2 linked regions of the Homo sapiens genome follow. The protein of the gene in region 1 interacts with the protein of each later gene in a pairwise test. Each region holds a gene or a part of one and is shown on either strand. Other genes may lie near its edges.

Region 1 (3,181 bases):
GCCCTGCTCCAGAATGGCCACTGACTGCTACTTTCGCACCTCAGTGTTCAGTTTTGCTTCCATCTAGACTGCAGAGGACCTGGAGGGATTCCTCTCTGCAGTGAGAGCCAGCGTGGGGTTTGGCACAGAGTGGGATCAGTGAGTGTGACAGGATCAGGTGTATTGAGCCCAGGGTGGCGGAGAGCGGCCCCAGCTTTACCCATCAATGAAGAAGTGGCAAGCCCCAATATGCACTCAGGGCCCTGAATTAGTGGCCTGGGGTTGATCACTCATGAGCCTGGGGGCCATGGTGGCTCCAGGAAGCTCACGCTGAAAAGGTCCATCTGAGCCCTGGGGCTGAACCCGAGAGGCCTGAGGACCACAGTGGAGGAGGGACCCAGGACAGGGCTGTGGGCTGGACATGAACCTGGTTTGAATAAACCCCGGTTAACTAGGGGATGCCCATGTGGGGCTCCCGAGGGCTCTGGGCCCCGATCTGTCAGTCACAATTGCCTTCAATGAGTGGCCAGGATGAGGCTCTGGCCATGGCAAGGATCACACGGAGACCAGTGAGTACTATCACAATCAATCAATAGATTTATCAACCTGGGGCTGGGGCTGACCGAGGAGGTGGAGGGTGGCAGAGGCTGGGGGACAACCACAGGCCAGGGAGAAAGAGGAGACAGAGGAAGCACCGAGGGTGACTACGTTGTCTTCCCTAGATCAATTTTCTTCTGGATGGCTCGTGCTGAGTGGTAGATGAGCGAATCGATGAGTCCAGCCACTGGGAGAGAGACAAGGGCTGGCACTGGCCCAGTGGGGGCCTTGGCTTTTGACGCTGAGAGCCTTGTCACTTAACTGGCCAGGCCAGCATCTGCCCCTTCACCCCCAACCAAACCTGGGGCACCCAGGCTTTACCCTCCCCACCCCACAGCTCACAGACGCCCTGGGCCTCTTACCTGTGAACATGCCCCCAATGATGGCGCACACACCTGTCAGGAAGTGGGTGAAGGACCTGGTAGAAGGAGAGGGTGGGCTCAGCAGGCATCCTCCTCCCTCAGGCCCAGGCCCCCAGAGGCCGCTTTGCCCCCATCCTCACCTGTGCTTCTCCGTCAGCTTCACCATCATGGGCGAGAGCTCATAGAGGACGAAGACTCCGGGAAGGCCTTGGTCGCCCAACAGCCCATTGGCAACCTTCTCATGTCTGGTCACAGAGAACTGATTTGTCCTCAGTACCTGGGGTGGGAGGGGAGCCTGGGCCAGGGCTAGGGCTAGGACCTGGCTCCAGCCACCATCAGCCCCACCCCTGCTCCTTCCCCTTTCCTGTTGAGCCTTGGCCGTGTAAGGAGAGAACACAGCACCGTGCTAGTGGCCTGCACTGCAAGGCCTGGCCCGCCAGACCCCCTCTCCTAGTCTTGGCCTCAGCCTTCCCCTCCAGGTGCCAAGTCTTTACAGTTTACCTATCCTGGCAGCATTTGGTGGGTGTTCTCACGGGGGTCCAGGCTGAGAAGCAGCTCTCCAAAGACGCACCAAGGCTGACCTGACTTCCTCTGCCCTCAGCCCCTCGCATCCTGCCACTCTGCTGAGATGCTGCTCCACAGGCCAGGGCAGCCTTGGGAGCGGGTACACAGAGACTTGCCTTGCCTAACCCCCAGCCCAGGCAGACCACAGAGAACAGTGAGGCAGGCAGACGGTGGGCACCGGAGGAACGGATAGAAGCGGTGAGGGCAGCAGAAAGAGCAGGCGCTTTAAATCTAACAGCCCCAGGCCTGCACTCTGCCTGGGAGGGCAAATCCCCCACCCTCTCTGTGCCTCAGTCTTTTATTCGCCATGTGAGGACGAGGCAGCTTTCACTCCCCAGGCTGACGGAACGAAATGCAGGAACTCCAGTGCTTGGCACCGCGCAGGAGACTCTGGTAGGGAGCTCCCTGACTCACCTCTCCGTCCACCTTCATGTACACAGTGGGCACCACCTTCACAAAGTACTGGAACATCATGGAGGCTGAGGGGAAAACAAAGCACTGGGTATGGGTGCCCGGCCGGCCTTCTGCGGCTGGGGGCTGCCTCCCGGGCTGGTACCTTGGGGCGCAGTGACATTGGTGTGGTCCAGGGGGTTCACAATGCCTGGATAGTCCTCCCCAAATGACAGGTGCTGGATGTAGTGGGTCATGTTGATCTGTAAACAACACCATCCAGAGCTCATCCAAAGCTCTGATGACAGTAGCAGACAGGGACACCTGGGTCCGTCTGCGGAGATGTGGGAGGAAGGGGAGGCTATGGTCCTAAGGGGACAACCTCCCCGAGATAAGAATCCCCCATTCCCTGCCTAGAAACTCCTCCTTCCACAGCCTGCAAACTCCTGGGGTTCCAGATTTTTCTTTTTTTTTTTTTTTTTTGAGACAAGGTCTCACTCTGTTGCCCAGGCTGGAGAGCAGTGGCATGATCTTGGCTCACTGCAGCCTCGCCTTATTCAAGCGATTCTCTTGCCTCAGCCTCCTGAGTAGCTGGGATTACAAGCATGAGCCACCATGCCTGGCCAGGTTCCAGATTTCTTAAAATACCAGCTTCACTTGTACGTTAGGCACACAGAGTAGCAGGTGCTGGCTTTGCCTGGAGGCCTAGGCTGGAGGCTGTGAACCCCCAGATACACTCCCTTCCTGCTCCCTTGTGTATCAGCCTCAGACACTAGAAGGATCTTTCCTAAAATGCAAATCTGATTATGTCGTGATCCTGCTTAAAGAAGGCCAACAGCTTTCCACTGTTCTCATGAGAAAGATGTGATTCCTCAGCGTGGCCTCTGAGTCCGGTGTGGTCTGGTCCCTGCCGACTTCTCCAGCCTCACCCATCCACACCTGCCCCGCAGTTCCTTAGAAGGGCCATGCTCCCGCCTGACCTTGCGCTGAGGCTCTGTCTGTCTAGGATGCTCTTATCCAACCCCAATCTTGCCCCTAGCCTGCTCAGAGTTCAGTTCAAAAGTCACTCTCGCTTAACCCTCAGGCTGGATCCCCATTCAGAACGTGGTGTATTTTTCCATATGCACTACCCCATCCCAGGATGTTCCTACAAGGAAATGAAGGCAGCAACCAAGCCTCCCACCCCCACCTGCCCTCCATGGTTTCCATCTGGTACGTACGTTGTCAAGGCCAAAGCTCTGCAAGTCATGGACTAGGAGAGAAGGGAGAAGGCAAGGGAGAAGGCGTCA
Region 2 (3,752 bases), on another chromosome or scaffold:
AAGGAACTCTTCAAGGAGAACTACAAACCACTGCTCAAGGAAATAAGAGAGGTCACAAACAAATGGAAAAACATTCCATGCTCATGGATAGGAAGAATCAATATCGTGAAAATGGCCATACTGCCTGAAGTAATTTATAGATTCAATGCTATTCCCATCAAGCTACCACTGACTTTCTTCACAGAATTAGAAAAAACTACTTTAAATCTCATATGGAACCAAAAAAGAGTCTGTATAGCAAAGACAATCCTAAGCAAAAAGAACAAAGCTGGAGGCATCACTCTACCTTACTTCAAACTATACTACAAGGCTACAGTAACCAAAACAGTATGGTGCTGGTACCAAAACAGATACATAGACCAAAGGAACAAAACAGAGGCCTCAGAAATGACACCACACATTTAAAGCCATCTGATCTTTGACAAACCTGACAAAAACAAGTAATGGGGAAAGGATTCCCTATTTAATAAACGGTGCTGACAAAACTGGCTAGCCATGTGCAGAAAACAGAAACTGGATCCCTTTTTTACACCTTATTCAAAAATTAACTCAAGATGGATTAAAGACTTCAATGTAAAACCTAAAACCATAAAAACCCTAGAAGAAAACCTAGGCAATACCATTCAGGACATAGGCATGGGCAAAGGCTTCATGACTAAAACACCAAAAGCAATGGCAACAAAAGCCAAAATTGACAAATGGAATCTAATTAAACTAAAGAGCTTCTGCACAGCAAAAGAAACTATCATCAGAGTAAACACGCAACCTACAGAATGGGAGAAAATTTTTACAATCTATCCATCTGAGAAAGGGCTAATATCCAGAATCTATAAGGAACTTAAACAAATTTACAAGAAAAAACAAACACCCCCATCAAAAAGTTGGCGAAGGATACGAACAGACACTTCTCAAAAGAAGACATTTATGTGGTCAACAAACATATGAAAAAAAGCTCATCATCACTGGTCATTAGAGAAATGCAAATCAAAACCACAATGAGATACCATCTCATGCCAGTTAAAATGGTGATCATTAAAAAGTCTGGAAACAACAGATGCTGATGAGGGGAGGAGAAATAGGAACGCTTTTACACTGTTGGTTGGAGTGTAAATTAGTTCAACCACTGTGGAAGACAGTGTGGCAATCCCTCAAGGATCTAGAACCAGAAATACCATTTGACCCAGCAATCCCATTACTGGATATATACCCAAAGGATTATAAATCATTCTACTGTAAAGACGCATACACACGTATGTTTATTGCAGCACTATTTACAATAGCAAAGACCTGGAACCAACCCAAATGCCCATCAATGATAGACTGGTTTAAGAAAATGTGGCACATATACACCATGGAATACTATGCAGCCATAAAAAAGAATGAGTTCATGTCCTGTGCAGGGACATGGGTAAAGCTGGAAACCATCATTCTCAGCAAACTAACAGAGGAACAGAAAACCAAACACTTCATTTTCTCACTCATAAGTGGGAGTTGAACAATGAGAACACATGGACACAGGGAGAGGAACATCACACACTGGGGCCTGTTGTGGGGGTTGGGGGCAAGGGGAGGGAGAGGATTAGGACAAATACCTAATGCATGTGGGGCTTAAAACCTAGATAATGGGTTGACAGGTGCAGCAAACCACCATGGCACATGTATACCTATGTAACAAACCTGCACGTTCTGCACATGTATCCCAGAACTTGAAGTAAAAAAAACAAAAAACAAAAATAAACCCCTACTGTATGTTAAGTCCCTTGCCAGATTCATTTATATAGTATTAGCTAGTTTGGTGGGGACAGGTTGGTATATTGAGTGGGGAAGGGTGGTAAAGGAGGACCATAAGTCTGTCATCTTGATGCTTATATTTTGCTTAAGTTTTTTAATATCAGCTGTTGTATTAGAAATTCTTGAAGACCTACTAATGTTAACACTGCTAAAAGTAACAGCAGATTTCTTAAATACAGCTGGCGTTTCTAATTAAATACTTTAATGTATACTGTAACAGATCATAATTTACAAGTTTTAAGGTTAGGCACCTACCTGTAGTAGAAGATCCATTGGTTTGGTTTGTAGTCATGCAATTATTTTTCCAAATGGACAAAAGTAGGACACAAATAACAAGATTCATGTCCGCAACTTGGTTCAAATGATTTGTCTACTAAGGTAACTACTGAATTTATACAGTTCAGAGTGTTCTAGGCATTTATGACATCATTACCATTGTGTGTCATACTCTGACAACATAATCTCACCATAGGGAAGCATAAGCTTCTGTATACAAATTTTACCAAATGACTTTTTTTTTTTTTTTTTTTTTTGAGACGGAGTTTGGCTCAGGCTGGAGTGCAATGGCATCATCTTGGCTCTCTGCAACCTCCACCTCCCGGGTTCAAGGCACGGTGGCTCACAGCTGTAATCCCAGCACTTTCGGAGGCGGAGGTGGGCGGATCACTTGAGGTCAGGAGTTCAAGACCAGCCTGGCCAACACGGTAAAACCCTGTCTCTATTAAAATGCAAAAATAGCTGGGCATGGTGGTGGGCACCTGTAATCCCAGCCACTTGGGAGGCTGAGGCAGGAGAATCACTTAAACCTGGGAGGTGGAGGTTGCAGTGAGCCGAGATTGCGCCACTGCACTCCAGCCTGGGCGACAGAGCAAGACTCTGTCTCAAAAAAAATAAAATAAAGAGTAAAAAAGAAATGAAAGAACATGTCCTATAAAGGTGACAGTGTTTGAAATTATGCATTTGGGGCCATTGGAATATAATAAAATTAAACATTAATTGGAAAACCCCCAGCCTGGCCAATATTGTGAAACCCCCTCTCTACCATAAAAAAAAAAATACAAAAATTAGCCGGGCGTAGTGGCAGGCACCTGTAATCCCAGCTACTCAGGAGGCTAACACAAGACAATCACTTGAACCCAGGAGGCAGAGGTTGCAGTGAGCCTAGATGGCGCCACTGCACTGCAGCCTGGGTGACAGAGCAAGACTCCATCTTAAAAAAAATAAAAAACCAAAAAAAAAAAAATACAACTCAGTTTTACCCTGAAGGTCTAAATAATCCTGCTCATACTTTTTAACTGTATAAAAATCAGAAAATGTTATTCTATTGCTTTTGAATAAGCTGCTTTTGAAAATTTGAATAGGGCTTATAAAGTGAAAGAATGTATCTGTCACCTTTTTTAAAAAAAGAAATCAGGTTTTTTTTTTTCCCTAGTGTTGGATACATGGTAGACAAATATCTTAAAGCCAGTATTTCAGAAACAGCTTCCAAATTAATTTGAACATTAACTTCATATTCATAATGGTTACAAAAACACTTTACTTTCTTTGGCTTTAACATAGATTTATATGATTTTTATTTCATTTGCAAGTTTACATGACTAGCATGTTAGTAATAATAGATTTCACTCAGAAATTCTAGGTATTATTTTGATAAAAATTGTATATAATAAGTACACTATAAAACCCCATTTCTTGCTTCATATTTGTTGTTGTTATTGTTTTGATTGTTGCCAGGACTAGAGTAAAACCCAGTGAGATATTTGCCTGTAGCACAAAATTTAAGGGGTGTTGCAAAATTCAGTAATCAAATAAGATTTTAACGTGATATTTAAAAACCAAAATTAATGCCAAAAATCTATGACCAACAAAATATTGAACATTTAAATAAAGACAGGATCTGATTCTGCATTTGCATGAGCCTGTCCCACTCCCCTCACCCTAATCCCAGCTCTGTATCTTGA

What was found.
Region 2: the proteins of ERGIC3 (region 1) and CXorf66 interact in binary tests that used the Homo sapiens proteins (3 or more experiments, as listed by UniProt).

The regions. Positions count from the first base shown.
Region 1 is NC_000020.11:35,555,007-35,558,187, reverse strand, and holds the end of ERGIC3 (endoplasmic reticulum-Golgi intermediate compartment protein 3), read right to left. Parts: intron 3,145-3,181; coding exon 3,113-3,144; intron 2,156-3,112; coding exon 2,059-2,155; intron 1,982-2,058; coding exon 1,917-1,981; intron 1,216-1,916; coding exon 1,079-1,215; intron 995-1,078; coding exon 939-994; intron 764-938; coding exon 684-763; 3' UTR 554-683; downstream 1-553. UniProt on the Homo sapiens protein: Possible role in transport between endoplasmic reticulum and Golgi. Positively regulates trafficking of the secretory proteins SERPINA1/alpha1-antitrypsin and HP/haptoglobin.
Region 2 is NC_000023.11:139,963,363-139,967,114, forward strand, and holds the start of CXorf66 (uncharacterized protein CXorf66 precursor), read right to left. Parts: upstream 2,160-3,752; 5' UTR 2,135-2,159; coding exon 2,047-2,134; intron 1-2,046.